5 separate regions of the Homo sapiens genome follow, and all the other regions are linked to region 5. The links come from fine-mapping of genetic effects on gene expression. A gene starts in region 5. Each other region holds a variant in brackets. All regions are shown on one strand. Distances are from middle to middle. Region 1 overlaps PHF20L1 (PHD finger protein 20 like 1). Region 2 overlaps TMEM71 (transmembrane protein 71). Region 3 overlaps TMEM71 (transmembrane protein 71). Region 4 overlaps LOC105375771 (a long non-coding RNA gene). Region 5 holds the start of TMEM71 (transmembrane protein 71).

Region 1 (6,195 bases), 72 kb after region 5:
TCTAAGCCTTGAAACATAACAGACTTTTATTCATAATAGCCAGAGGGAATTGAAGTGGGGAATACAGACAGGGTGCGGAATGCCAAGTTTTACCTATTAAATATCAGCCATGTTTTATTTTAGTACAAAATTGAGATTTCTTTCATTGTTTTTACAATCAGATTCTGCTTCTACTTTTACTTTTGCTGAAAGGACAATATATAATGGAGTTGATAAGAAGGCAGCCTTGAAGGTTTAGTATAGGTATTCAAATCCTGCCCGTAACACTTACAGCTAAGCGACCTTTGACAGGTTATTTAAATTCTCTACATCCCAGTTTCCTTTCTTCTAAAATAAATGGTAATTGATAGTTTTATTGCATAGATTTATTATTCGAATTAAATAAAGTAATCATTGTAAAGTACTTGATACAGTACCTGGCATTTAATAAATGTCCTTTCCATGTCTGGGCCTAAGTAATATGGTGTTGGGCAAACTGTGGTTATGGTGAGGCCACTGGAGTCAGAATAGCGTAGTGCTGCCCAAAGACTGCTGTAATCTGACAGCATCAGCATCATCTGGGAGTGTTTCATTCCCAGTGCACTGGAGATGAGGCCCAGGAATCTGGGGTTTAACAAGCTTGCCAGCTTGTGCACCCTTTAAATGTTGAAATACACCGATATCACTTATTTGTTAAGAGTGTAGCTTCCATAGTCAGGCTGCCTGGGTTTGAATGTTGGCTTTGCTATTGATAGTTGTATATTCTTGGGCAATTTGCTTCATCTGTCTTGCCTCAATTCTTTACTAGCAGTCCTACTTCCCTCATTAGATGCTTGTGAGGATTAAAAGAGTTAATACACATAAAGAACTGAAAATTGCATTTGGCACATAGAGAGCCCTCAATCAGTGTTGGTTGTGCCGTGGTATTTATGATGATGAGTGTAAGTTTCCCATTGCTGCTGTTGCAAATTACTGCACATCAGTGGTTTAAAAAAATATGTATTTATTATCTTAAAGTTCTGGAGGTCAGGAGTCCAAAATGGGTCTCTCTAGGTTAAAACCAAGGTATCAACAGGGCTCCATTTTTCTCTGGAGGCTCTTAGGGACAGTCTGTTTTCTTGCCTCTTCTAGTTTCCAGAGGCTTCTGCATTGCTTGGCTCTTGTCCTGCTCCCATCTTCAAAGTCAGCAGTGGTCCAGTCTTTCTCATCTTGTTTCACTCTCACGTCATCTCTTCTGCCTCCATCCTTTCACTTTTAAGGACCCTTGCCATTACATTGGGCCCACCCATATGATCCAGGATACTCTCCCTGTTGTGAGGTCAGCCGATTAGCAACCTTAATTCCACTTTTCCACATAGCTTAGCTTATTTAAAAGTTCTAGGGTTTAGGACATAGACATTTTTGGCAGACTATTCTGTCTCCCACAGCTGCCACCTTCAAATGGATACTTAGCACAGACCAATGCGTCTCTTATAAGCTCACTTTTCCACTCTCTGTCTTTCCTTTTTCCCACTCGTTTCCATCTCTCATTTCCACCTCTCATGTATTCCCTAACCTGCGTCACTTGACATCCTTTTCCTCACAGAGTTGAGAAGACAGACATCATCAGGTGGGAACTTGCTCATACTCTATCTACCACATCTGCATGCTTACATGAAAATATTCATCATCTTAGCCTCTATTAAAATGGAGGGAATGTCTGCTTTTCTTAATCTAGCATTTCTCACCACTGCCATCCCCCTTTCCCACATCTTAAGGTTCATGTAGGTAATGTGTAAGATTTCCCATCTTACAGAGCCCTCTTCTAAACTTCTGTTTCTTCTCTGGTTTCTCCACCTTGCATTTACTCTTCAGCCCCATCTCATACCCACTTTTGTTGCCTTGTTGCTCACGCATAAACCTGGAAATCAATCTTGATAATGCCGTCTTAGCTCTCGGCCTCCAGTCTATAACAGCACTCCATCTTCCTTAAAATCTTCCCCTTATTTGCCATCACCCAAGTTCTGAGCCACCAACATTTCTTTCCTGGACTACTGCTGTAGCCTCTGAACTGTCCCCCCACTTCTATGTGTGCCTTCCTGCATTCCATCCTCCATTCCACAGCTAGAGTGATCCTCTGGAAATGAAACTGTCACATCTTGCTCCTCCTCCACATAAGCATTGAATGACTTTTTATTGCATTAGGGTAAAACTTTTTAAAAAAAGCTAATCTGGCTCCTGTCACTCTAGCTTTGTTTCTCCCTTATTCACTGTGTTCCAGCCAGTCTTACAGCTTGCCAAATGTGGCATGCACTCTTCAGCTTCAGAGCCTTCCCACATGCCTGGAATCACACCCCCACCTCCTTTTTTCCTTCCCTTACTATACCCTCAACTCTCCAGTAAGCTGCATATGGCCTCTCCCCTTGCACACATCTGTGGGACTCATTACAAAACTGAGAAAAACAGAATTTTTACAGAGTTCTTCCAGGACTAGTTAATTACCTTCAGAGATTTATTACTTGAAAAATTTATTGATCAGATTATCACTGTATAATTGGTGTGCCAGACATCAGGAGAACCTCTTTACGAATTGTGGGGAAGAAAAAAGGTGAATTTCCATCTTGCATATCTTTTTTTTTTCCTCTTCAACTTTTATTAGGTTGGTACAAAAGTACCTCAATTACTTTTGCACCAACCGAATAAGTTCTGGGGTACATGTACAGGATGTGCAGGTTTGTTACACAGGTAAATGTGTGCCATGGTGGTTTGCTGCACAGATCAACCCATCACCTAGGTGTTAAGCCCAGCACGCATTAGCTGTTCTTGCTGATGCTCTCCCCCACTTCCCACAGGCCCCAGTGTGTGTTGTTCTTCCCCATGTGTCCATGTGTTGTCATCTTGCATATTTTACTGCAGACATAGTTGTGATTATAATGGAGAGAAAATGTGAAATAATCCTTTTTCACCTCTATAGTACTTCACAAAAGTTTACAGGTACCAGTTAGAACCTGGTGCCCCCTACTATGTATATATTGTCTGGGGTATATTTGTTTCCCAAGTGTTCTTGCTAAACCCAGTTCATCAGATCCATATGTAGCTTTTCATGGATGAGAAGCGAAAGTGGTAGCATGATTATTTGGTGTATCCTGAAACATGACTTTCGTTATTTTTATAGTGACCTTAATTATCTGACACTTTATTAATATTTCTTTCTGTATCTTATGTTGCAGACTATTCAGACTATGAAGACAGTTCCCTCGAATTTTTGGAAAGGTGCTCTTCTCCACTAACTCGATCTTCTGGGAGTTCTCTGGCTTCACGAAGCATGTTTACGGAGAAAACTACAACCTATCAGTACCCAAGGGCAATTCTATCCGTTGATCTTAGTGGTGAAAGTATGTGTAACCATGTGATGGTTAAAACAAGACTTACAATTCCTAAATGTGTAACTGAGAATAAAA[C/T]GTACTCTGTTAAGAGCATGCGATTTAAAAACTTGTTAGCTAAACTAATATGAAAGTCTTGATGTGAGAAATTTGAGCTACTTTTTAATTTATATAAAGTTAAATTGGCTTTATACTTATTGGTGGAAGAGAGTCATAAGGAAAATATTACTAGTGTATATACTTCTGTAGGTTTTTGCACATATATTTTTATATTCTTCACTATCAACTGACAGAGTAGGTATTATTCACATTTGATATATAAACAAGCCGAAACTTACAGGGTAAGTAGCTTTTCGGCTTAGCTAGTGTTAGAATTAAAACTCTAACCAAGGTCTGTCTTAACTCCGTAGATAATGCTTTCTTAAATAAACATTTATGGTAATCTTAAAAGTATACTTTGAATTCCTGGTCAGATACATCTGTAACCAAAGTCCTGAGATGTAGTCAGACAACTGATTTAAACACAGGCAGGAACTAAGCGCCCTTAGGTAGTCAGAAGGCCACGTCAGCAGTGAAGGGAGCACTGGAGTTCAAATCTGTTAGACTTTCCTGCAGGTCCAGTCCTGACAGTGGAAAGTGTTGAAGACTCTTACCTTGCTTCCAATATTGTAAGCAATAGGCACAGAGATCCCAGCTGTAGACATTGAGGGCTGTGGCATAAGAGTAGAGCTCTAATGCAATAGCAACCAGAGTCAGAGAGTGAGGAATAAGGGACGGGGCCTTCAGCATAAGTACAACCTAGGATCCTTGTGAGTGAGCTCACTTCCTCCCTTTTTCTTTCTTCTGACTGACCTCGATGGTGGATACTAGGTTAAATGTTTGCTTTTGCACCGTTTGCTTCCAGGTCTAAGTCCTCCCTGGCTCGTTATGGAGAAAGCATTTTCTTTCCTTTATAGCTCATGACACTTGTGAGATTTTATTTTTAGAACCTTGAGGTATGGGAGGGGATTAAAAAAGAAGTTACCACCACCCTTTTCCAGCAAATACAAGTCTACTTTTTCCCATGGTTCAGTGGTTCTTCACCCCCGGTGAACCTTACAATCATTGCTGCGGTTCTTCTAAACTATACTGATCATGGATCCTACCATGAGGCACAATTGAATGAGATTTCTGGAAGGATCCTGGCAAGATACAACTTCTAGGTGATGCTATGGAGAAGCAGAGGTTGATAATCACATTAAGAACATCCTTACTGTGAATCATCAAGATCTGAAGATTATCTCTTGCTATAGAAAGATGGAGAATAGGGGTTATATCTAGGCTAGTTGTGGTGCTGAAACAAGAACCCTTGAAAGAGCATGAAAAGAGCCATAGATGTGTACTCTCTGTTCTTAGTCTCTGCCCTGCCCTTATGATCAAGTACTAAGTCAGGAGAAAGAAAAGGAAAATTAATAAGGCCTTAGGCCAGAAATTCTCAATGTTAGCATGTGTCAGAACTGCCCAGAGAGTGTGTTAAAACACATTTCTGGGCCTCACCCTCAGAATTTCTGAGTTCCAGCAAGTTCCCCGGTGATGATAAATGTTGCTGATCAGGAAACCACACTTGCAAAATGCTGTCTCAGGAAATAGCAATGACAATTTAAGGGGTAGTTGCTGGAAGGCAACAGCTGTTCTTGTGGCCACTCAGTTGGAGCCATTGTCTAGGTGGCTATTCAAGCGTAAGGGGGAACTTTTATTTGCTTCTTACATAACTTTCAGCTCTGTCATCCATTTTACTCAACTTCCAAAACTCAGCTAAGCATAAGTTTAATGCTTGGGAGTTATTCAAACTAGATTTGTGGAGAATATGATAAATTTGCTTGCTAACACCATAAAACTGGTAATCTTTGCCATGCAAGTATATGTGAGATACACTAATTCCTTTCAATGATATAATTTCAAATTAATTTTTATTTATTTATTTATTGAGGCAAGATCTTGCTCTGTTGCCTAGGCTGAAATACTGGTGTGATCGTAGTTCATTGCAGCCTCAAACTCCTTGGCTCAAGCAATCCTCTTGCCTCAGCCTCCTGAGTAGCTAAGACTACCAGCACAGGTCATCATGCCTAGCAAATTATTTTTGCTTTTGTAGAGATGAGGGCTTGCTTTGTTGTACAGGCTGGTTTCAAACTCCTAACTTAAAGTGATCCTCTCACCACGGCCTCCCAAAGTGCTGGGACTAGAGGTGTGAGCCGCTGTGCCCGGCCCATTTAATACTGTTTATATGCTGCAACAGTGTTTGAAACTGTTTTACCCACATTCCAATGAACTTGAGAAAGCCCAAAAGAAAATTTGGATTTAAGCCAGCAAGATTATGGATGGGTGAAATTTTCCTCTTTAGGTTCTTTTAAAACAAGTTATACTGTTCATACTAGATTTTCCATATCTAGTTGATTTACTAGCTCCATGAATATTTTCAGATATTTCTTTATTATCTATTTCTGCTGACCTTCCTTCCGTATGTCCCTGTGACTTCAAAGAGAAGAAAACTTTATTTTTCTATAAAACATTAATCAACAACAAAACATTCAAAAACATTGAATGAAGAAAAAAGTAAGCAAGATTAGAAGCTGATAGAGGAAACACTAAATCATGTGAAAAATGTAGAGTATAAATAGCGTGAATTTTTAAAGTTCAAATCTGTTCAACTTCGGTCCCATCTGATTAAGTCTGAAAAGAAAATATTCTCTCTCTGACTCTCTCCTTAGTTCTTCTACAAACATTCTGGAGTGGCTATATTATATATCAGGCCTCATTCTAATAACTGGGGATGTAGCATTCAACAATGCAAAGTTCTTGCTGTCATGGATTCTGA
Region 2 (6,195 bases), 30 kb before region 5:
ATAGCAAACATCTGTGTATCTTCCACTTTGCTTTATTGAAGCCTAACATTTTACAAAATATTCTCAGAATTTTTTTTTTTTTTTGAGATGGAGTCTCGCTCTGTCACCCAGGATGGAGTGCAATGGCGCGATCTCAGCTCACTGCAACCTCTGCCTCCTGGGTTCATGCAATTCTCCTGCCTCAGCCTCCCGAGTAGCTGGGACTATAGGCACCCGCCACCATGCCCAGCTAATTTTTTGTATTTTTAGTAGAGACAGTGTTTCACCATGTTAGCCAGGATGGTCTTGATCTCCTGACCTTGTGATCCGCCCGCCTCGGCCTCCCAAAGTGCTGGGATTACAGGCCTGACCTGCCGTGCCCGGTCTCTGAATATTTTTTAAGTAAAACACTGCAGATCCAGTTACTGATGCCTCTAACATGACACCCAAAGGCAGTCATCTCCTCTGCAAAGGGTCACCTGGGCTTTGGCAGAGGCCCCATGTCCTCCCTTCCTCGCACAGGTTGGTACCAGCTCCTAACTGCATTTTAGTCATCTCCAAGTCATTCTCAGGCTCTGAAAGGAAGAATTCTTTGGGTGTGGCAAATATTTAAAACACCTGAACTCACCTGAATGATCCGAACTATTCTCTTGGAAACGTTCAGAAGCTGTCAACTGGGACTGAAGAGACAAGCTATGGGAGTTTCCTCCAGGAGGCTGAGATATGATGTGGCTGGAAGAGGAGGTGATCACAGACTCTGCATTCATCTTCCCTGACTCCCAGTCATCAGTCAGAGAAGAACAGTCTAAATCATCTGCTGAAAAAGCAGAGGGGTTCAGTGTGAGTGTGTGTGTGTGTGTGTGTGTGTGTGTGTGTGTGTTCAGTGACTGCTCAATGCACAGTTAGTTCCTAATAATCACAAAAATAGTAATATTGATACGGTATTGCACTACCATAGTGGGATGGGAGAAGGATTTTTGGATGAGATGAGATGATGTATTCGTCTGTTTTCATGCTGCTGATAAAGACTTTCCTGAGACTGGGTAATTTATAAAGAAAAAGAGATTTAATGGACTCACAGTTCCACATGGCTGGGGAGGCTTCACAATCATGGTGGAAGGCAAGGAGGAGCAAAGTCACATCTTACATGGATAGTGGCAGGTAAAGAGAGAATAAGAGTCAAGTGAAAAGAGAAATCCCTTGTAAAACCATCAGATCTCATGAGACTTATTCACTATCATGAGAACAGCATGAGAAAGACCCATCACCATGATTCAATACCCTCCCACCAGATCCCTCTCACAACATGTGGGAATTGTGGGAGCTACAATTCAATATGAGATTTGGGTGAGGACACAGGCAAACCATTTCAAATGGCATTTCAATTTGTCTTCATACTTGAAGGTTGAAGAGAAATATCTTCAGTGCAGAGATAAACAAAGGCCAGAGGCATCTTCAATGACACTGAAGTTTGTATAGATGGATTTAAAGGATATGTAGTCAGTATATGAACCTCACATCTTTATAGGACCAAACTTTACAGCAGTCAACTCTTTCTACTTCTGATTCATTTATTCATTCAACATTTATTGAATGTGACTATATATTAGAAACTGACCTAGCTGCTGGGATATAGTGGTGAATTAGAACAACATCTCTGTCCTTACATATTGCTGAGTGGCAGGGAAGAAAATATCTTGTGATAAGTGTCATGAAGGAAATTCTGCCTCTATAAAATACATTGAAATGCCTAGATAAAATATAGCAACCATCTGTTTAAATTTTTTTATTCAAAGAGGCTATTTCATACACACATAGCTTCAAGAACATGCACCCATTTTCTCCTATGATGATTCATACATAAATATATTTTACTTGCCCTAAACTTAGCCTGACATTCTCACAAAAAGTCAAGTTTATTGCAAAAGCATGCATGCAACTTCAAGTTTCAAACATGCTAAGATGATTCCTCATAACACTTGGTGTCTTCAATGTGAGGTCACCAAGGAATGAATTTTAATCCTTGATTCTTAGTTTGAGTCAGAGATTAGGGGATCCAAAACTCTATAAGCCAAAGCTTCCTTGGAAAGGATGAATGTGTTAAGAATGCCTTTCAACCACAGGGATAGTTAAGCACCACACCTCTGACTCAACCACTGGAAGTCTCCCATTTGGCTCACCTGGCATAAATGTACCTAGGAATTCTCTTGGTTCTGTCTTGAGTGGTCTGTGTCACATTCCAGGGTTTAACTTTACTCTTATGATCTTGGGTAAGAATTCGTGCCAGTTTAGAGCTCATTGACTTGGAAGCAAAGCCACTCAGAAAGAGTAGCCAGAGTCCTGCTTTGGGATGTAGGTGTTTTCTAAGCTGACATCTAAAAGGGACTGCACATGCCCAACAAATGTACTTTTCTTTATAGCTGAGCTCAAAAGAAGGAAATATTCCCAAAGGCCAAGCCAGGGAAACCTATAACTCTAAGCATACGCTGTGGACAAAGCTGCCAAAAGGGGTGGGGAGAGGGCCTTAGAAGTCATAGTAGTCAAAGGTCTATGGATTAAATGACATTAGGGACAGAAAAAAGGCCTTGGTCTCAAGAGAGGCAGAAAATTAAAACCGAGTTTCTGTAGGGACTCAAAATGCTATTTCCTCAATGAAAGGATGGCTAAGAAAAAAAATCTGCCCACTAGTTCTAGGAGAAGGCATGAAAGCTTATCTGTTTTGGCCTATGTAGTGGGTGGGAGGAAAATGTCTCCGCCAACACTTTATAAGTAAGTGGGTTTTCAGTTAAATTTTTTTTTTTTTTTTGAGACGGAGTTTTGCTCTTGTTGCCCAGGCTGGAGTGCAATGGCGCAAGCTCAGCTCACAGCAACTTCCACCTCCTGGGTTCAGGCGATTCTCCTGCCTCAGCCTCCCGAATAGCTGGGATTACAGGCATGTGCCACCATGCCCAGCTAATTTTGTATTTTTAGTTGAGATAGGGTTTCTCCATGTTGGTCAGACTAGTCTTGAACTCCCGACCTCAGATGATCCACCCACCTCGGCCTCCCAAAGTGCTAGGATTACAGGCATGAGTCACCATGCCTGGCCTTGAGTTAAAATTTATACTAACCTGGGAAATTAATATTTTAAAAAGTCTCAGGCTGGTACTAGCCCTGTGATATCTGCCAGAAGCCAACATAAAAGCTCTCTGTGGAAACACACTCTCAGCCCAAGCTGCACAGATTTCCCCAGATAAAGCCCAAAGGACATGAGCTCACAATCTAAAATTATAAATTATGCAGGGAGATAATCTCCTATGGGTAAGGAGAATAAATATGATGCTTCAGAAAAAGATAATCCTGCAGTGGGAGATGATGGGAGTAGCCAGGATGTTACCGTCTGGCTTTAAGCTTTGAGCAGGAGGCATGATGTTTGGAGAAATTGTCCTAATTTATTTTACCTTGGGGAAACTCTGAAGACCTGTAAAATTTGTGTTTTTTGTTTTTTTGTGGTTATTTTATACCCATAGTATGTCCTTATTTTTGCTTCTTGTCTAAACAGGACAATTACTTCTATGGTCC[A/T]TCTAAGCCTTGATTTCATGACTAAGGGAAATATGAATATCGACTGGGCAAATATTTGGTAAACTTATGAACTGTAGGACACTTAGGAGGGAAACAAGGGAGAATAAGACACTGTCCCAAAAGAAGTTGAAATCTAGGGTGTGTGTGTACATGTGTGCATGTGTGTGTTTGTGTGTGTGTGCATGTACACATGAGTCAACAGTGGGAGGCAATAAAGAAGGCATCACTTATGGACAGGGGAAACAGACTATCATTTGCTAAAAAGAGATGAAATATGGTTTTGTGGAAATTTCAAGGACTTTGGCATCAGAAAGACTGAAACATACATTCTAATACTAGTAACAGGGCACTTTGCTTAATTTTTCTGATCCTGAGTTTCTTCATGTAAAATAGGATAGTAATGTCTACTTTTTTACAGCTGTGATAAGTGAAGGAGAAGAGACAAAAATGTAAACATACCAACATATAGTTTAGATGGAGAGAATTGAAACTTCTATTGCTAATAGACATTATAATAGATATAGACCCTAGTTACGTGACCAAATGTGATAATCAACTTCATGGGGAGTAGGGGGTGGTAGAAGGGTGCTGATGAGTCATCAAACGATGTTTCAAGGTGGAAGTGATTTTTAAGAATTTATCATTCAATAATAAAAGAAGCTTATTACTTGACCTTGGGGAAGGTAATATTTACTTTGAATTAGATATGCAGGAATTTGCTATACCATGAAGGGACTCCTAAACCTGCTCCAGACATTTCTAGGCACAGGGTTTATCCCATATGGCTGCTTACTTGCCCCGACTTCACCATAGGACAGGGTCCTCTCTAGAAGAAAGTGCCCCAGCAGAGGGTAAAGACTGTAATCTCTGCCCCCTGCCTCATCACAGAGCTGAACAGGCATAGCAAGAGGGCCTCTGGGAAAGACCAACCTGACCTGGTGGGGAATAGCCACAGTTCCTGAGAAGGGTTTAGAGACAGGGACAAAAGAAAAACAGGGAGGAAGAAAGGAAAGAATCAAGAAGGTGATTTTTACCATGTAGTAGGAACTTCAAGGGGAACAAGCAGGGGAATCTGAACAGCCCCAGTTAACAAATAGAAACTTTCTCTGCCTTGATTGCTGTCATGGAATGTCTGGAACATAAAATGACTAAGGAAAGATACGAAACCAGCTGGGAGGAAAGACTGAAGCAGCCCCCAGGTGACATACCCAGAGAAGACCCCCAAGCCAGAGGAATTGGGAGGTGGAGCAAAAGTAAGGCGGGAGGCAAAAGCTGCATGGATACGGGCCAGGCAGATCTATTTATTCATTCAATGCAGTTATTGTATATACTGCAAATGCTGCTCTGGAAGAAGGAAGTCAAATTAGATATTGCTCTGCCTTACTCATGATCTGGAGAGGGACATACATGCAAATGAACAATTAGGATGCAATGAGGTAATTGCTACAACAAAGGCTGGAACAAGTTATCCAGTGGGAATCTAGGAAGGGGTGTCTGAGTCTGTCTGAGGGAAATCCAAGGAGGCTTCACAGAGGAGGCAGCGCTTCAGTGGAAACTGGAAGGATGAGTAACAGTTCTTCCAGAGAGACAGCAGGAAGAGGACAGGCCAGGCAGAGAGGAAGAGAGTAAGTGGGGATGGGGAGAAATTACAATACCTCAATCTATGAGAGACCAGGGTGGGTTCCCAGAAGAGTCCTCCTGTGTAGCTAGACAAGAGCATGTGCATGAGGTCAGTCCCAGGAGATGATTCTGTCTGGGCTGCTAAGCAGAGGTCACATTGTGTGGGGTCTCATGTCACACTCCAAGCTAATATTGATTCTGTGGGTGATTTAGAGTCATTAAAAAAATCTGAGCATGAGTGTAACATGAGTTGCTTTGTGTGTTAAAATGCTCACTCAGCAGTGAGAGATTTGCGAGATTCCCAGTCTCCCATTCTAGGAGCTGAGTGACTATGGGGCTCCAAGAGACATTGGGGTCCTCATACAACAGTAGTTCTTAATAGGGGGTGATTTCTCCTCCCCGGGGACATGGTGCAATATCTTGAGACAGTTTACGTTGTCACAACTTGGAGTGAGGTGAGGGGTGTTACGGGCATCTACTGAACAGAGGCCAGGGATGCTATTAAACACCCAACAGTGCACAGGGCAGGTGCCACAACAAGACATTACCTGCCCACGATACTGTGATGCTGAGGCTGAGAAACCCTGTCATTGAGAGAGCTGACCTAACCGTCTAAGGCAACTGGATCATTAGAGTCCTTTCGACAACTCTGGTAGGTGCTTCAAGTGAGAATCACGTGTCTGTATTTTCCTGGTTGTACTTAATCTAGTCAAAACACTCTGTTCTCTGCCTTCAGAGGACAGATCATAATTTATGATTTTATCATTGTTACAGAAATACAGACAATAGAATACATAATTTCTGTGTGTGTGTTTTTTTGTTGTTGTTGTTTAGTGTCTGTCTCCCTCACTAGACAAAAGGCTCCGTGAGAAAAAGGTCACTTCATCTGTCCCAGACACCAGCAATTAGTACCCAGCTCATAGTTAGCATTCAGTAAGTTTTACAGAGAATTCGGTAAGGGGTAGGAGGCTAAGATATGTAGTGTTGTTATTTGCAAAATCTAACGTAGGCCTGTTATAACAGGGTACAGTAACT
Region 3 (6,195 bases), 23 kb before region 5:
GTAGCTCTCATGTTATGTTCTTACACACACACACACACACACACGCATACACATACACACACACACAGAGACACAGGCACCTTTGGGACATGTTGGGTATGTCTATTACCTTGATTGTGGTGATGGAATTCACAGGTGTCTGCATATGTCTAAAGTCATAAAATTGTACACATGAAATATGTGCAGTTCTCTGTATAGCAATTACACCTCAATAAAGCTGTTAAAAAAAAGAGGAGGCTAGCTGATCAAATCAATGTGGAAGTGAGAAAGAGATGGGAACTTCCACGGCTAATTATGTAGTCATGAGTGCCCCTTAACTACAATCTGGGTAGATGTGGACGAGACTGTAACAACAGTAAAAAGATGTGCTGTTTCCCAGGGCTGCCCAGTTGAATATAAAGCTTTGCTGCTGAGAGTTGGATGAAATAAAAAATATGTAGAATACTGGAAATTGTACATAAAATTTTCTGAAAGAAAATATGGTATTCAACAGAGAAACCACAAAAAAGTCTTAACATTCAAAAACGATCAAGGAGATTTTTCATCTCTGAAAAGACATGATTTAACCCAAACTCACTTTCCCTAATTGACAGTGAATTTTCTTCTCCAAACTTAATAACAAATAAAAGGATTATAAGGCAAAAAATATTTTACCAAATAGCTCTAGTTGTATTATTGTTGAAGGTATCTATTTCATTCTGTTTAACTTGATTTCTAAATTTGATGTACTTTACCTCTGTTGGGAAGATTCTGTATCTTCTAAGCACATCTTCCATATCCTTTTATATAAAAATGGGCATTATTTGCTATAAAGAGAAGCCCAAAGCCACATACTGATGTTGCCATCTCAAAGATATTTATGTGACAGGCATGAGTTCTAGAGAAAGGCATGCACCTCAAGCTCAGGTGACTTGCCTGGAGTCAGCCTGCCTTTTCCAGGACTGGCAGAAATAGAGTCCATCCTGTTCAGTCCTCCCTGCGTGAATCCTCTGCTCTCTTTCAGTATGACTCACAGGCTCTGGGAACACATCCCGAATTGCAGTATTGGGGCCTGGGTAGCTGCAAAATTCCGTGGCTCAAGAATGAATTGCAACTAATGAGGAAAGGTGTCAACACAGCTGGGAAAGGGGTGAACTGAGGACAAACAAAACAGGCAAAAACATCCTCTTGCCTGAAAAATGAAGCACAAGAAAATCAGGGGAAGTAATGTTTGATTGCATCCATTGCTCAGAGAGAAAACAGCAAAACAATTTAATTTTGATTTCTTCTGGAGTCTTCTAACTAGGCATTTCCAGAGAAAAATAAATTGCTGATAAAAGTCACGGGGCCTTGGGTAAATCTGGAAAGCAAGAAGTCTGGGGAAGATGTGATTACTCTGACAGCAGAGATGAAAGATTTCAAAGTTCTGTGTGCGCCCAGGTTGACTAATTACTGATTTTGGATGGAGGTAGTTTGATTTGTTATATTTAGAGGATATTTGGAAACCATGAGAATTTTAATAAGATACCTCATGCACGTGCAGCATTGCTGTGGTCCAATCCCTTTGAAATTGTTTGGACATATTTCAAAGAGACAACGAAGGAAAAATTAGATGTTAATTTCTAAATATGTGACATACTGTCTTTAGAACAGTGATTCTCAGACTTTAGTCATCCAGGCATTATTTTCCTGATTTTTGCCAAATCCCAGAACCTGCTTGCTCTCAGCCATTTAATATTTTCTTAAGATTGTCTCATTTTACATTTTTACTTTAAAGCAAACTTTATAACAGTCACGTAAATGCCCTAAACAGAAAGTAAAGGTAAAAATAAGTACAATGGAAAATGTAACCTTATTTAATACGTGTGAAATACTGGTGTAGCAGAAAGCTCTGAGCCTGTTCTTGGTTAAGAAGAACTTTGTTAAAACCAAAGAGATTGTAGCAAATGTTAGAGAATCTGACAGCTACCAAGGTTCTAAACTGAGCCTTGGTCTTCTTGGTTTTATCAGAAGGATTGTAAGGGAATTGGAAGAGGAGCCACAACTTCTCTCTTACTGTGTGATTCAACGTTCACTGTTGCTCTGTGCTAGCAGCATTTCCTACCCTACCCTACACCTTAGAAAACATTGCTTTAGAACTGAGAAGACACTTGCCTTGTTGCTCCAGAAAAAAACAGGGGAGAATCAATGGATGGACACTCCAAAAGGCACATTAGAGGTGAGCCTGAGTAAGCCATTCCTGGAGCAGCAGTAACCACTGAGAGGAAGAGGCAGCCTCAGAAAATCATGAGTGGGTGGGGTAGGAGATGGGGAGATGTTGGTCAAAGGGTACAAAATTCCAGTCAGACAGGATGAAAAATGTTCTGGAAATCTATCCTATATCATGGTGACTAGAGTTAATAATAATGTGTTGTATTCTTGAAAATTGCTAGGAGAGGGCCAGGCATGGTGGCTCACACCTGTAATCCCAGTACATTGGGAAGCCAAGGAGGGCAGATTACTTGAGCTCAGGAGTTTGAGACCAGCCTGGCCAACATGGTGAAACCCCATCTCAACTGAAAATGCAAAAACTTAGCCAGGCATGGTGGCTCATGCCTGTAGTTCCAGCTACTTGGCAGGCTGAGGCAGGAGAATTGCTTGAGCCCACGAGGTGGAGGTTGCAGTAAGCCAAGACTGGACCACTGCACCCCAGCCTGGGCAACAGAGTGAGACTCTGTCTCAAAAAAAAAAAAAATTGCTGAGAGAGCAG[T/C]TCTTAAATGTTCTCACAACAACAATAACAAATGGTAAGTATACGAGGTGATGGATATGTTAATTAACTTGATTTCCCCATTTCACAGTGTGTACATATGTTGAAACATCACATTGCCCACTTCATCAACAACACCTTAATTAAACATTTTATCAAAATGAAACAAAATAATGAGAGTCCAAAATAGGCAAATCCACGGAGACTGAAAGTAGATGAATATTGGTCGTCAGGGGCTGGTGGGGAAGGAGGAGTGACTGCGAGTGAGTATCAGGTTTCTTTTTGGGGCTGATGGAATGTTCTGGAACAGGAAAGCAGTCGTGATTGCATGGCCTCCCTGTGACTATACTAAAAAATCGCTGAATTGTATACGTTAAGTTGGTAGATTTTAAGGAACGTGGATTATATCTCAATTAAAAAGTAACGAGAGCTCTGTACTAAGATATTTGTGCCACTCTGTCAGAAAGAGTCAGAGAGATAACTTCTCCTTTGCCTTTGGAGGGAAGATTCCACACATAACACATCTACCAGGGACTACAGAATTCTTGAGTTGACCTCCTTATCAAGCTGTGCTTCATTAGCCAGTTCTTCATATTCTTTTCTTTCATAACACCACACTCTCTTGCTTCCTTGCCTGAGAAACTTTCCCCAAAGAGCTTTTTCCCAGGATTAAGAGCACATGCTCAGACTTTTCTCTTCAAATCCTGGCTATGCGACTTCTTACCTGTGTGGCCTCATATATAGTACCTAAGCTACCTTAGCTTCTTCCCCTGGAAAATGGGGATAAATAATAATAACTCAGAGGCTTTGCAGAGAAGTGATGACGTGACATGTGGCTTTCTTGGAACTGTGCTTGCCCCTAGCACTCACACAATTAGGGATCATTATTACTGGGGCTTCTGTTCAACCTCCTGAATTCCTTTCTTACCGCTCCTTTCTTCTCATTCACTTGTTTTCCATAAGTAGACTTCTTTATTCCAAAAAACTGTATTGCTTCTCAGATTGGCTTATGTATCAACTGTATTCCTTCTCAGATTGGCTTATGAATTACTCCTGAACCCCCTTCTTATGTTTCCAAACCTCTACTGGTTATCTATTTCCCATAAGATATCTCAAATTCAACCCATAAGAAATACAATTCATTGTCTGTTTTGATGATCCTCAGCTGTTCTTTTCTGCCTTTTTAGAGCTAATGTGTATTAAGCAGAATACCAGCCCCTGGTATTCATAAGAGATATTAGAAGTGTGACATTTTTCATGAATTATTGCATTTCATCCTCCCCATTCTATATGCTATTTTTTTATTTTATATATAAGAAGTAGAGGATCAGAGAGGTTAGTTAATAACTTGCCCAAGAACATTCAGGTGGGAAAAGCTGGTTCTAGGATTTGAATTCAGGTTCATCTAGTTCAAAAGCTCATTTTCCTTATCACTCTACCACACTATCTTCCAGCCCTTGGTGACTTGCAGAATTTTTTATGCAGTCTCCCAAATTAAATACCTCAGTTTTCTTTGATTCTCCCACGTTCTCACTACTATATTCTATCTATCACTAACCTGTCAATTCTACCTTGGAAAATATTCTTTAAGTCTCTTCCTTCCTCCCTATTTCCTGCCACTTCCTTAGGATACTGGTTGATTTTAATTGCCTCAGAGCTCCCATCCAATCCTCAATTGTGCTACTGCAAAGATAACTTGAAAATTCCAAATCTGATTGCATCATCACCCTGCTTAAGAGAATCAAAAAATATTCTTGATTGATTAGATAAAACCCCAAATCCTCAATATGGCATAAAAGGTTCTTCAAATATCTACAATTAATATTTCTGGCCTCACCCCCCACATCCCTGCTCTTTCCCCTCTCCTCTTCCTGCTTTTACACTCTTGTTATTGTGGAAAACTAGAATCACTCAATTTAAGTAATCCTTTGATCATATTAAGAACTGTTTCTTCATTTAACAAGCACTTATTGCATTCTTAAAACTAATCTAGTATTACATGCACACACACACACACACACACAGGAATATATGTAAAAATTGGTGGAATCTTCATGGCATTGTGCCAACGTCCATTTCCTGGTTTTGATAATGTGCTATAGCTGTATAAGTAGTTATCAGTGGGCAAAGCTGGGTGAAGCATACACTGACCCTCTCTATACTATTTTTTGTAACATTTTGTGAATCAAAGTTACTGAAAATTAAAAAAAAATGTTACGTGTGTCTTCTGTCTAGGAAGCAGATTAAGAAAAATCATAGCCATGTAATTATTATACACTTAAGTTAATAGATTATTGCATTATACGACTCCTCTAGCTTGCTCTTTCGGCCTGCACTATGAGGGACATGATGGATTTCTCCTTGAAAAGGAAAACAAAGCCCTTCCGGGCAGCAGAGCAGAGTCTGGACTTTTAAATCAGATAGACCTCGGTTGAATTCCAACTCTGCTGTTTTTGTTTTTGTTTTTGTTTTTGAGATGGAGTCTCGCTCTGTCACCCAGGCTGGAGTGCAGTGGCGCGGTCTCCGCTCACTGCAAGCTCCGCCTCCCAGGTTCACGCCATTCTCCTGCCTCAGCTTCCCGCATAGCTGGGACTACAGGTGCCCGCCACCATGCCCATCTAATTTTTTGTATTTTTAGTAGAGACGGGGTTTCACCATGTTAGCCAGGATGGTCTCGATCTCCTGACCTCGTGATCCGCCTGCCTCGGCCTCCCAAAGTGCTGGGATTACAGGAGTGAGCCACCGTGTCAGGCCCCAACTCTGCTGTTTATAAGCTAAATTAACTTGGGCGAGTTCCTTAACCCTGAACTTCAGTTTTATCATAATTATAATAAATATGATAATATGACCTACTTCTTATGAGTTTTGGGGATATTTAAACAAGATAATGTATGTAAACAAGCTAATATATTTTAAAAAGACAAAATGTGAAGTGCTCAGCATGGAATAAGCACCCTTGACTTCTCTTTTTCTCTCACAGCCACGTAGGCAAATCTTGTTGAGTCTACCTGTAAGACGAATCTGGAATCCTACTTCTCATCACCATTCTGCTATCATCTCAGTTCAAGCTGCCATTATCTCCCACCTGAATCACACCAATAGCCTCTTAACGTGTTTCTTGCTTCTGCTCCTAATAGCGGACATCTAATCTGAACTCAGCAGCTGGAATAATCCTTTTAACATGTAAATTGAAACAAGTTATTCCTCAGCTCAGAATCCTCCAGTGGTTTGCCCTCCACTCAGAGTATGAAAGCAAAGCCTTTGAAATGACCCCACAGCTCCCCTTGTTCTTTCCCACTTGCATTCCTGACACACCTTTCAGTCTTTTCCCTACTATCCCCCCTCACTCACTCAGCCCAGTGCAGGCTCTGAGACTAGAACTTGTACACCAGCATTTCACTTGCCTGGATTGTTCCTCCCCCAGATATCCACAGAGCTGTTTTGCTTTTGCTTTTAAGCCAATGCTCAAA
Region 4 (6,195 bases), 580 kb after region 5:
GTTCCAGGCCTTTGGACTGAAACTGGATTATACCATGGGATCCACTGAGTCTTCAGCTTTCACATGGCAGATCATGGGACTTCTCAGCCTCCGTAATCACATGAGCCAATTTCTCATAATAAACCTTTCTTCTCTCTCTCTCCATATATATGCGTGTGTGTGTGTGCGTGTGTGTGTGTGTGTGTGTGTGTATTAGGTCCCTCTCCTGTGGACCCAGAGCATGATCAGTTTCCATACTGCCCCTGCAGACAGCAGGTAGGAGGTATTCTTGGGCATTTGTCATGCTGAACTAAATGCCTTTTACCTGTGTAACCTCCAGAAAGTCCTATAACCTCTCTATGTCTCTGTTCCTATATCTGTAAAATGAGAATAATACTGCCATCAATCTGACAGGATTGTTATGAGGAATCAATACATTAATATATAGGAAGCATTTAGAAGTCCCTGACATGGCCTGGCGCGGTGGCTCACGCCTATAATCCCAGCACTTTGGAAGGCCAAGTCACATGGATCATGAGGTCAGGAGTTCAAGACCAGCCTGGCCAAGGTGGTGAAACCTCGCCTCTACTAAAAATACAAAAATTAGCCAGGAATGGTGTCAGGGACCTGTAATCCCAGCTACTCAGGAGGCTGAGGCAGATGAGGCAGATAATTGCTTGAACCCGGGAGGCAGAGGTTGCAGTGAGCCAAGATCGCACCACTGCACTCCAGCCTGGGTGACAGAGTGAGACTCCGTCTAAAAAAAAAAAAAAAAAAAGTTCCTGGCACAAATTATACAAGTGCTAGCTATTATTTTTATTATCATTATTTACTATTATCTACCTATCTCCCGCCAAACCCTGTATTAACCACGGTCTGGCTAGTGTGAGTTACATAGGTGTACTACCCTACCCTGCATCCATCATTTGTTTACTGTACAAAAATTACTTCATATCCCACCCTACTTAAAAATGTGCTACTGAAGTCAAGCTAAGGGTATGAAAAAAATGTGCCGGTGGACATTCATGCAAGTAAAACAGTCGTTTATGATGATCTAAGCTCAGAACCTAGCTACATGTTACATAGACACTCAGACGGGCTTTTGTGCACACTGTTAATATTTCCTAAATGTTCTAGGAAGCAACTACAGTGTAAAGTGAGAGAAGCTTGTGCTTTGTTTGGTCTGGAGTTCTTTCAAGAGTCACTTGCTGTTTGGGAAAATTACAACACTCTCAGCAATTCTACTCATAGTCTCTGAATCACCAGCAAAACACACCCAAGTTGGTCTGTGTTTGTAAGTGTGCATTCACAGTGGTTCCTTATTTATAGGTGTTGGGAATCTGATTGTTTCATCATGTCTTCCAGTGTGGTCATGCCCAAGCACTTGCATATTTAGAAATATACTACAAATCATTTTTATTCCATTTCTCCTTTATATGTAAAAGCACATCATATCTATTGTCTTAAAATTACATATGTAAGGAGATCATAGGATCTATAATTTGGATTCAGATAGTAAAGAATATCTACTTTACAAAGGGGAATGGAGTCATGAGTTTTAGTTCTTTTCTAGGAAATAAATGGGTCAGAAAGAGGAAGCTTGCACTGGCAGAGGGTGTGGTGGAATTCCAGGTATGTAAACAGCATTTAGAGAAGTTACCCTATGCTCCTCTATCATTCTTCCCTAGCCTTCTGAACTGTATTTTCTTCCAGCTTCTAAGACACAGGCAGTATCTATGCATCTTTGCCTTTTAAATTATCTAGAAACAATTACGTTTCTTGGTCCTTGTATCCCAATGGGTTTGGGTTTTTTTGTTTTTTTTTAGAAGAAACAGCACTGGGTTAGGAGACAGAGGACCTCAGTTTGAGTCTTCTGCTGGTGACCTCGGGACACTGCACTTGTCTGGGCCTCTGTTTCCTCATCTGCAAAAGTGAGAGTAATCACCTCATTTCTGAGCGGGGAGTGTTTTGAGCTCTGTAAGGGGCCACGGGAAAACAAGGCAGCAGGCCCAGGAGGGCCAAGACCACAGCCCCTGGAAATAAATCAGGCTCACTGCAGAGCAAGGCGTGCTGGAAGGAGCTCAGACTAGCTCTGCCCCACAGCAGGCCCTGGGACTCAGGTCTGCTCTCTGAGCCTCAGTTTCCCCATCTGCAAAGCAGGCACAGGGGCAGAACTAACTAGATGAACTCTAAGATTCCTTTGCCCACAGAAGCCCTGTAAAATTAATTAAAGGTAGATTTGTCCATGGAAAGGAGAAATATATTTATTCAGAAGAGATAGTTTCTGTGATGGTTTAATTTTGTGTCAACTTGACTGGGCCAACGGGTTAATGCTCTGATTCACCAATTTTTTCCAGGTGTATCTGTGCAGATGTTTCTGGATGAGACTAGCATTCAAGTGGGGGAACTTAGTAAAGCAGATGGCCCTTCCCAGTGTGGGTGGAAACCATCCAATCCATCGAGGGGCTGAATAGAACAAAAAGGCAGAGGAAGGAGGGAAAGATTCATCCCTTTTGCTTCCTGCATGCCTGGTTGAGCTGGGGCATCTCATCTTCTCTTGCCCTTGGACCGGGACTTATAGCGTCAAATTCCCTGGTTGTCAGGCCTTTGGATTCAGGCTGGAATTACAGCACTCACTTTCCTGGGTCTCCAGCTGGTGGATAGAAGATGGTGAGAATTCTCAGCCTCCACAACCACATGAGTCAATTCCTCACAATCTTTTCATTAATTTATATCTATATCTATATATCTATATGTCTTTCCTATTGGTTCTGTTTTTTTGGAGAGCCATAATACCTTCTATTCTAATGATGGAAAGATGTTAAGCCCCAGTTGTTCCACATGTCTGGTAATTGCATTGGAAGAAACAGTCTCCTAGTGGAAGGTGACGGTGGTCATTTCCACATACCGTGGAAGCTCTCAGACAAGGGACATTGTATCTGAAACACAGGCAAAGGGCTGTCACTCATACCCTGGGTTAGCACCAGAGACATACATTCTCTCATTTGACTCACATCTGTTCTCTCTAACCATGCTCCGTGCTGGATGCACCACTTAGG[C/T]CACTCTAGGTCAACAAAAGAAGCGGGTACAGAGAAAAGCTGAGCCCAGGCTCTGTGCTAACTGTGATGACTGAGGTAGCTCAGACAACTATAGGAAGGAGTACAGAGCAGAGTCACCTAACCTAGCCAGGGAACGTAGGTGTCTGGGGAAATGCCAAGGAGGCACAATACTTCTAGATAAAGAGAAAGTTTGGAAAGCATGGTAGTTCCAGGCAGTGGGAACAGCCTGTGCAAAAGCATGGAAGCATGAGAAAATGCGGTGGGTTTTAGGAATGATTAATAATCATATCTGTTGGGCATAAAACAGGGGATTTGGAAAATCTAGAATTGAGGCTGATTGAGTAGATAGAGGCTGGCCAGGAAGGCCCTTGTATACTCTCATGAGTAGTCGTGATTTGCCTTTAGGCAATTGGGAGCCATTGAGGAATTAGAAACAGGAGGTTGACATAATCAGATCTGTATTTTCAAAAGACCTTGATGTCTTCCACTATGTGTGGAAACACCAAGTCAGGGAGAAAATGCGAGGCAGAATGAAAACTGAACCACGACTGTGTCTATGGGAGTCAATGCAAGACTGATCTGAAAGATACTATAGGAGGAAGAAGAGAAAAGGGAGATCAGAGGGCAGCCTGGGTGGCTGCTATCAACAAGTCCTTGGGCAGGGAATATTGCCCAGACACGTAGAGGATAAATGTAAGGCATTTGAGATATAAGATGATGATGGGCAATTGATGTAGGACAATGTCACATTAGTCTTTGTGTCAATCCTGAAAGTTGGGGATGTTGGATTTTCAGAGAGAGAAAGTGACTTGCCCAAGTTCACACCTCCAGGAATCCAGCTATGATTACAAGTGCCCTATATTAACTGGGACCTTGAATGACAGAAGTTTGAGAAGCCCTACCAGAAGCTCTCAGTGGCCTGCTGCTGTGTCATTGAAATGTATTTCAGTGTCTAAGAGAAACTGCATTGTCCTCCCGGCAGCCCTGGACTGGACCCTGTAATATCATGAGCTACTCTGGAAGAGGAGAGACAAAGTTCACTGCTCTGAGCAGCAGGGTCTTTGGTTGCCATGTGACTGAAGATGGGTACAGATTTTTTTTTGTAAACGTAATAAAAATCAAAAATAATAAAACGAGGTGTGATTTCTTCCATGAAAAACCATAAAATCTCTCTCATAGTCTCCCAGTCTGAATGCCTCCTTCCTTCTCTCTCCCCTTTGGCTCATGAATTTCTCATTCCTGCCAAATAGGTCGGTTGAGTTGGAAACATTAATTGTTTGCTCTAGTGGATGCCAAGGTTCCTGCCTGGCCTTCCTCATCTGACCCAACTTCATGTGCCTTTCAAAGCCCAGCTTAGATAGCCCCTTTTCTTGGACCCTCCCTGCTGCCCAGCCATGCCCCCACTGCACACATGCAGCTAGGTGAGGTCAGTCACTGCCTCTTGAGCCCTCCTCAGCTCTGGGGAGACCCTCCTCCTCTCAGCACCTGCTCCCATGGCCTTCCCCCTTAGACTCTGAGGATCCTGTCCTGGAAGTGGGGGCCTTGTCTTCTCTGCTTTCATATCTTCCTTCCTAAAATGACTGCCACCAAAATGCTGAATCAATGGACAAATGGATGAATAAATGAGTGGATTCAGAAGATGCTAGTGAGGTGAACTGTCATGAACACACTATCTCTGAGACATTAAAAATGTTTCATTAAGTTATTTTTATAAAACACACATACCATACACCATGGAATACTATGCAGCCATAAAAAATGATGAGTTCATGTCCTTTGTAGGGACATGGATGAAGCTGGAAACCATCATTCTCAGCAAACTATCTCAAGGACAAAAAACCAAACACCGCATGTTCTCACTCATAGGTGGGAATTGAACAATGAGAACACATGGACACAGGAAGGGGAACATCACACACCGGGGCCTGTTGTGGGGTGGGGGGAGGGGGAGGGATAGCATTAGGAGATATACCTAATGTTAAATGATGAGTTAATGGGTGCAGCACACCAACATGGCACATGTATACATATGTAACTAACCAGCACGTTGTGTACATGTACCCTAAAACTTAAAGTATAATAAAACAAACAAAAAACAACAACAACAAAACACACATACCAAGCCCAAAATATCCTTACAGTGCCCAAGGTTGTAAAATGAAAAGTGAGTCTTCTTTCCAGCTCCCAGGATCACTCTGCAGAAGGTGCTGCCCACAGGCGTCTTCTTCTGTTTTGAGACATTTCCCTTTTACATTCTTTACACAACTGGAGGCATGCTGCACAAACTGTTCAAATAAAAGAAATAAAATAAAAAGAAATCTTTTCGTTTCTTTTAACAATATCATGGAGATCGTTCCACACCATTTTCTGTTCAGAGTTATGGAGTTCCTTTTTACGTATGTATAATAGTTTATTTGGCCAAGCTTCTATTGGAAGACAAGGATGACATGCCAATTAATATTCTCAACTCCAGGGCTTCTTAGCCTTCATCCTCCCTAGCATTAGGTACTCTTTTATTCATTTTGGACCTTGCTGGTGACTTCTGGATGAAAGAGATGGTGTTGTCAGTCAATGTGCATTCAACTGTTCTATTTGCTTTGTGTTTACTTAATAATTAATGTTTTTAAATACTTTTGCCAACCACGGTGAAAATACTTCAGAGACAGGGACAATATCATACACAATTACTGCTCTCACGTGGCACTAAATACATGTCTGAAATGAATGGGTAAATGAATATCTGGGTGCTCAAACCTGGATGATAAGAGTTGGGAAGGGTTGGCAAATATTTTCTGAAGCAAGGTCAGTGGCTTAAAAGCCCAATTGATTAAGATATTTCCTGCATTATATTCCACCAAATCAATGAAACAATTCATTTAATCCACTTTCTATTAATGGCTGGTTAACTTCCTTTCAATCCTTTACTATTATAAACAATGCTGTGTACTTTTCCGAGTATTTTCCTATGAAATAGCTCTAGAAAGTCCTAAATGACAAATTGCTGAATCAAAACATTCACTGTTTTTAGAAGTTTTTGATATATATATGATTGATTTTTTCCTCTAGAAGATTTGCAGATATTTTCACTCCAACAGGGACCTCTGAATCTTTGCCATACCTTGTTCCATCCTTGAGCAGGGAAAAATGTGAAATGTAG
Region 5 (6,195 bases):
TTACATATGTTGATACATGTATCAATATGTATAATTGCAAACAGTGGAGGCATGTAAGAAGATGGGAATAGCTGATGTTCCAGCTTCAGCAGGAAGACTCCAGTAGTGCAGGTACCCTTATCACCAGGGATCTACCGGAAGCAAGACATAAACTAGAGGCTTCTATCTTCTGTTCCTTCATCCACATAACACTCTAGAAGTTCCGGGCGCAGTGTCTCACTCCTGTAATCTCAGAATTTGGGAGACCGAGGCGGGCGGATCACAAGGTCAGGAGATCTAAACCATCCTGGCTAACACGGTGACACCCCGTCTTTACTAAAATATACAAAAAATTAGCAGGGCGTGGTGGTGGGCGCCTGCAGTCCCAGCTACTGGGGAGGCTGAGGCAGGAGAATGGCGTGAACCTGGGAGGCAGAGCTTGCAGTGAGCTGAGATCGCTCCACTGCACTCCAGCCTGGGCGACAGAGCAAGATTCTGTCTCAAAAAAAAAAAAAAAAAAAAAATTTCTTAGTGCAGAATGAGGCAATAATAAATCATTAGCATCAAACTGAGCTCATGTAAGGATGGGAAAAAACGTCTTGTGTGAAGCAGGAGAAAACCCAAATCAATTACCCAATGTGTTGGTTATTGCAGCTTACTCAGTAATCTGAGGAATTCAATCATTGTTCTAGACTCTCCCTCATTAGTGCATATTAAGACACTTCTACTGTAAAATAATGAGCAAAAGACATTAGTGGGGAAGAAATAAAGTTTTGTTTTGTTTTATATAACATTTTTCCAAAGTATAAAGACTGTGAGTATTCTTAATTATAGAAACATCATCCATTCATTCGTTCCATTTTAACCAAAGGCGTGGCAACAGACTTTACTTGGAGAAAGTTGGAGTTGATTAATATTCTAAACTCTAAAGCAGAATTTTATCGTGTGCAGAGATGGTGTCAATAGTCCTAACAGACAAGCTAGTGAAATTTGATTCCATTATGGACAATTAGTATCTAGGACAAAGAAAGGAATTTAGACTTTCAGATTGGGCTGGTTGATTTGTAGGGAGAAAACTGTGGGTGTGTGAGGGAGAGTTAGAAGTGGGGTTTTGGGAGAAAATAACAAGAGGAAGGAAGAAACTTGAAACCACTACCGTTTTAACAGCGCTCTTATTTTCTGCAAGTAGCTATCAAAATCATTCAGCATTTTTTATATACAAACAGTTTTGCATCTTAATAGTAGCTGATAAACAATCTCCTTTCACATTTATGCACAGGCATCTAAAAAAAAACGGTGATTTTTTTTTTTCTACTAGAAGGAAAAATACCACATTTCTTTCAAGGAAAAAAATGAAGTTAAAATCATTGCCAAAGTGAACACTGGCATTTAAGAAGCACAAGCTACTGACAGATGGTTAATGGTCTGAGTATCAGCAAAATCAAAGCAAGGAAATTGCTAAAAGGAGTCTAATCGTTCAAAAGATAATTGCGTATCACAGTTCTTCTACATTTACTTGCTACTGGTGTTGACATCAGTTGAGATATTCGGTACATCTTGGGAAGGCCGCTTGCTCAAACTTCACAGATTCTCTGCAAAAGATGTTAAAAAAAAGGTGGACTATATATTAAAAATAGAAAAATTATGCCAAAACAGATGGCATCTACTAATTGCACTAGTCAGATTTGTTTACTGAAATAATACAGAGATACAGAATTGAAGGTAGGAGACCAGACTGAAGACACAACCCCTCTAAAGTTGTGTCTGCCTCTATGACTGAACATTTTCCATTGCCTCACTCAGTGCATCTCAATAACATTTTTCTGTAAATAAGAACCACACTTTATTTGGAAAATCTAGACTTAAAAAGGTTGATTTGTAATCCAAAGAAAATAATGAAAGTGAGGTATTTGATTAAGAAATCTTAATAAAATGACTGGTTCTAACAGTCATTTAGCCCCAAAACAAACTTACGTGTATTTTAATCATCTGACACAAGTCAACTTCATTATCAAGTTTCAAACAGTGCTTGGAGATTGGTGTCTGTCTTTTTCCCAACAACTTGAACCATTGACAGGTAGTCACAGAGAGTGATTTTAATAGTTTTTATCAGCCTGGACATTCCTAAACAGCATAAGTAATGTTGCACTAAAGATAGCATACCATTGGGAAGATTTTAGAACTTAGTTCCCATGAAGACATGATTTAATTTCTCAATTACTAATTAAAAACATATCAAAGTATGTAAATTATGCAAACTTTGATCATTTACTGTTCATCAAATAGAACCAACTTCTGTTGACTATGAAACTTTGTATATAGTATCACTATCCTAATCGCTTTATAAGGTAGGAGTAAATTATTTTCTGATTCACCACTTATGGCCACATTTTGTAACATGAGAACTAGTAATGGATTGTTTTTGTAGCTGTAATTCAATCAATCAAACCAGGCTAATTCTACAGCTTCAAGTTGAATATTTCAATAAATTATATATAAACCCTATTAGGAAAATATAAACCTGGTTTATAGAGACCTGTAAAGATGTCAGGAGAACTTTCTGGCCTTCCTTGGAAGATTTCTAAATCAAAGCACACATTTACAAATTTCATTTGTTTGGGATATAAAATAATCCCAGTGTAATGTAATATATTAGTATGTTACTTGTTCTTTTCATTTTTGATCAATATTGTACGGGTATGCCCAGCCCAAATTACCTTATTTTAGTGTTCCCCAAGTATTAAGCTTAATTTTAAGCCTATAAATCCTGCAGCAAAAGAAGGTCTTATTGCTCTATCTCACAAGTGCTTAGAAGAATCTACAGGCAGTACACTGACATTCAATAGAAAATTAGTAACAGTAGGAAAAAAAAAAGCCCTTCAGTTACAGATCTAAAACTTTTCAAGAAACAGAATCTGCCAGTTCCATCAAAGCGACACATCTATTCTGAAAAATAATGTGTGCATACGTGTTCCTTCCAAAGGGAGTTCCCAGCCTCTTCTTCCAATTGACAAAGGACAAAATTATTACTGAAATACGAAGCTTCCTGTGGTTGACAGTGGAAAAATTGAGGACTGAGCAGTTCCTCGGCTGAAAAATGTCTGAATGTCAACAGGTGCAGAAGTCTCTTAATAAAGGGAATCCCACCCTACCTTCTTCTCACAGATGCCCACGCACATTGCTGTGCACAGGTGCTTGCAGAGAAGTTTTGTCTTCGGCAGCCTCTTGTTCTCTTGTCTGTTTCCTGGTATAAATGAGTGTATAGTTCTTGGGAAAGTCAGTCTTACAACTTCTCTTGTTTTCTTTTGAAAACAGCCTGCGTAACCAGAGGCAAAGAAGCAGAATGAGGTCACACTTCCTGTTGGGCTCACATCAGTGGCATTCACACTGAGGAGTGTGCTGAAGATTTCAGAGAGTTTCCTGGGCCAGCAGCAGGGAATGTGCAGCCCATGTGTCAGGCCAGCTGGTTACACCCTGGTCACTGGAGGGGTGGTTTTCTGAGCTAACTTGTCACCTTTGGCTGCGAGAACGTGAGAAAGACTCAGCGAACTGACATTTCTTGCTCATCATATGGCCACATTCAGTTATAAGTAGTGCAGAGTAGTGATCTTTGTCCAAATCACTTAAATTTATTGAGGATAATGCACTGATGCTATTAAATTCAGAATACTATTAAATAGCAAGAGCTTGATCTTATGAAAATTTCTATAGAGGCAATAGGTTTATCTAATGAAGGTTGGACTTCACAAAAAACTCTATAGATGGCATTTTACATTTACATTATAGTAGAGCTCAAAGACTTGATGGTGTTTATGGGTTCATACACATCTGTACTACTGTAAGTGATAAAAGAAATGTACATTCAAATATATATTCCAGCAACATTGAGGTACCACTGCATAGTGGAAAGAGTGCGGATTCTGGGGTCACAAGACAGAAATTCAACCTGTCTACCATCCTAGCTGTGTGACCTCAGATTTGTGACTTACCCCTCTGAGTTGCAGTTTTCTCAATTATAAACATAAAAATATATATGTCATATGATGGCTTGAAGAATTAAATGAAATAAAAGAAATGAGAAATAATCGAGTCCTCAGCACAGATGTGCAAGGTGTATTCTTTATTTGTTTTCTTAAATCAAGTTCTCTTCTGAGGCACCAGTTGGTCCGGCTGGCGGAAAAGTTAATCTCATCCTTTCCTGGGGTTCCCTTTCCCCCTGAGGTTCTGCCACATGGCAGGATCTTCTGTAGAACATGTTCTAGGCAGCAGGAACTGTCAGGAGGAGGGCCCATCTAATTTCAAAGTTCTCTGTCTCTGGAACTTCATGTCTATTCTCCATCCCTTGAGTGTAGACTGAGGCTGCTGACATGCTCCTTGTAAATAAAGTAAGGCAAAGGTGCTGAGTTTCCACTACCATGATGAGGCTTCCATCTTGTTGGACTCTATTACTTTCTTGCTTGCCTGCTTTGATGAAGCAAGCTGCCATGGTGGAGAAGCCCATGTGTCAAGGAATCAAGAGTGGTCTCAAAAGCCAGTAAGGGTCTGATGCTCCATCCAACAGCCAGGAATCCAGCCAAAAACCAAGTGTGTGAGCTTGGAAGTGGATCCTTCTCCAGTTGAGCCTTGAGCTGACTGCAGCCCCATCTAATGCTCGATTGGAACTGGGAAAGACCCAGAAGCAGACAACCCAGGCTAGCCCTGCCCAGCTCCCTGGCCCACGCAAACTGGGAAGTGACAAATGGTATTTCAAGCCACCACGTTTTGAGGTAATTTGTTACACAGCAACACATAGCAGATGCATAGTCCTAACACAGGTCACTTCCTGAGCCATCTGTCATTGCTGACTCTCTGCTGCTTTAGTGACTCCTGTAGAATATAGTCACATTTACTCAAGGCTACTCCTGGTCACATCTGCCTAAATTTAACAGACAGCTATTCTGCTTCACAGCTGTCTGGTATTCTCTTTACTGGAATTCACAGTTCTCTTCTTCTCCTTTTCCTGTTTTTCTTATCCCTCATCCTCCCTCTTCCAGCCTTGGCTTATCTCTTCTAGATGAGGGAGGAAAATCTTTCTGACTTATTCGAGACCCTCTGCTCTTCCTGTGCCCACAAATCCACTTTTCCGAAGAGCTCACATCAGAAAGACTTTGGTCTACTTTTTTTTTTTTTAAAGATCTGGCACATATTAGAACCTTATTATTAATGATCATAATAATTGCTAACTTTAAGGAGTGCTTACTATGTACCAGGCACTGTTCTAAGGTCTTTCCACATATCAACACATTAATTGTTACATCAATTCCATGGGAGATGCTGTATTATTATTCTCATTTTACAGAAGAGCAAACTGAGTTTAGAGAGTTGCCCAAATTCACATAGCCAGTACGTGATGAGTAAGTAGAGCTAGGATTCAAACCCTGATGAGATGGCTCTCGAGTTTGCTTTCTTAACCTATAAGTGTAATGATCATATCCAACGTGTGTCAGCATTTTCTACAAACCAGGCACTGCACTAAACACTGTACATATGTAATCTTGTTTCAACCTCACGTAGCCCTAGAAAATAAGTGCAATTGTTATCCACATGCAGGACAGAGGTTTATAGAGTTTGCATAAATCTTTCAAAATTGCCAATGGCCAGAACTAAATTCCAAACCTATGGTTCCCCTCTCAATCTTCTCTCTTGAGACCCACTCATCTTCTTCTTGTTTCTCATACACTAGACACGGGTCTACTTCAAGATCTTTGAGGTTAGTGTTCCCTCACCCTAAGGGTCACAGGGCTTTCTTCCTCCCCTCCCTCAGCTCTTTTCTCCACTGCCTTGCTACTAATTAATTGCCCTCCACACCACTCCCTAGTCTCTTCCTGCTTTATTCTTCTCCTTAGCACTTTTTACCAAGGAATATGTCACACAATTCATTCCTTGTAATAAGAAACGTACTCCTCAGCCAGAACATGAGCATTAAAAGAGCAGAGAATATTGTCATTTTGCTTCATTTTAATAGCCCAAGTATCAAGAGTAGTGCTTCCCATATAGTAGGTTATCAATTAATGTTTGTGGAATTAACAAATAAATTAATTACATCCAGGTAGACTTGCCTTCAGAACCTTTATTCTGCATGTTATAAATCAATGTTTCTAAAAGCATGTTCCACAGAATATTCAGTCCTCCACTGTTAATGGAGGTGATGCGTGTGGATGGGGAAAAGACGAGTGG

Evidence for each region. PIP is the estimated chance that this variant, and not a neighbour inherited with it, causes the effect.
Region 1: its variant is the best candidate, but not a certain one, in a credible set for the expression of TMEM71 in whole blood (INTERVAL, PIP 0.77).
Region 2: its variant is the best candidate, but not a certain one, in a credible set for the expression of TMEM71 in whole blood (TOPMed, PIP 0.53).
Region 3: its variant is the best candidate, but not a certain one, in a credible set for the expression of TMEM71 in whole blood (TOPMed, PIP 0.72).
Region 4: its variant is the best candidate, but not a certain one, in a credible set for the expression of TMEM71 in whole blood (Lepik 2017, PIP 0.84).

What each region holds. Positions count from the first base shown.
Region 1 is chr8:132,829,047-132,835,241 of GRCh38, forward strand. PHF20L1 (PHD finger protein 20 like 1) reads left to right here. Exons shown (of 21, transcript NM_016018.5): 15 at 3,189-3,353. Among named protein-coding and RNA genes, the nearest start is that of TG, 35 kb to the right of the region's middle. The variant C/T (reference allele first, on the strand shown) is at 3,420.
Region 2 is chr8:132,727,191-132,733,385 of GRCh38, forward strand. TMEM71 (transmembrane protein 71) reads right to left here. Exons shown (of 10, transcript NM_001382403.1): 6 at 608-796. Among named protein-coding and RNA genes, the nearest start is that of TMEM71, 30 kb to the right of the region's middle. The variant A/T (reference allele first, on the strand shown) is at 3,541.
Region 3 is chr8:132,734,132-132,740,326 of GRCh38, forward strand. All of the region lies in intron 5 of TMEM71 (transmembrane protein 71), which reads right to left. Among named protein-coding and RNA genes, the nearest start is that of TMEM71, 23 kb to the right of the region's middle. The variant T/C (reference allele first, on the strand shown) is at 2,729.
Region 4 is chr8:133,340,029-133,346,223 of GRCh38, forward strand. It overlaps LOC105375771 (a long non-coding RNA gene), which reads right to left. Exons shown (of 3, transcript XR_001746096.2): 3 at 4,727-5,323. Among named protein-coding and RNA genes, the nearest start is that of NDRG1, 46 kb to the left of the region's middle. The variant C/T (reference allele first, on the strand shown) is at 3,039.
Region 5 is chr8:132,757,345-132,763,539 of GRCh38, forward strand. It overlaps TMEM71 (transmembrane protein 71), which reads right to left and starts at 3,238. Exons shown (of 10, transcript NM_001382403.1): 1 at 3,132-3,238; 2 at 1,496-1,571. The coding sequence starts at 1,535.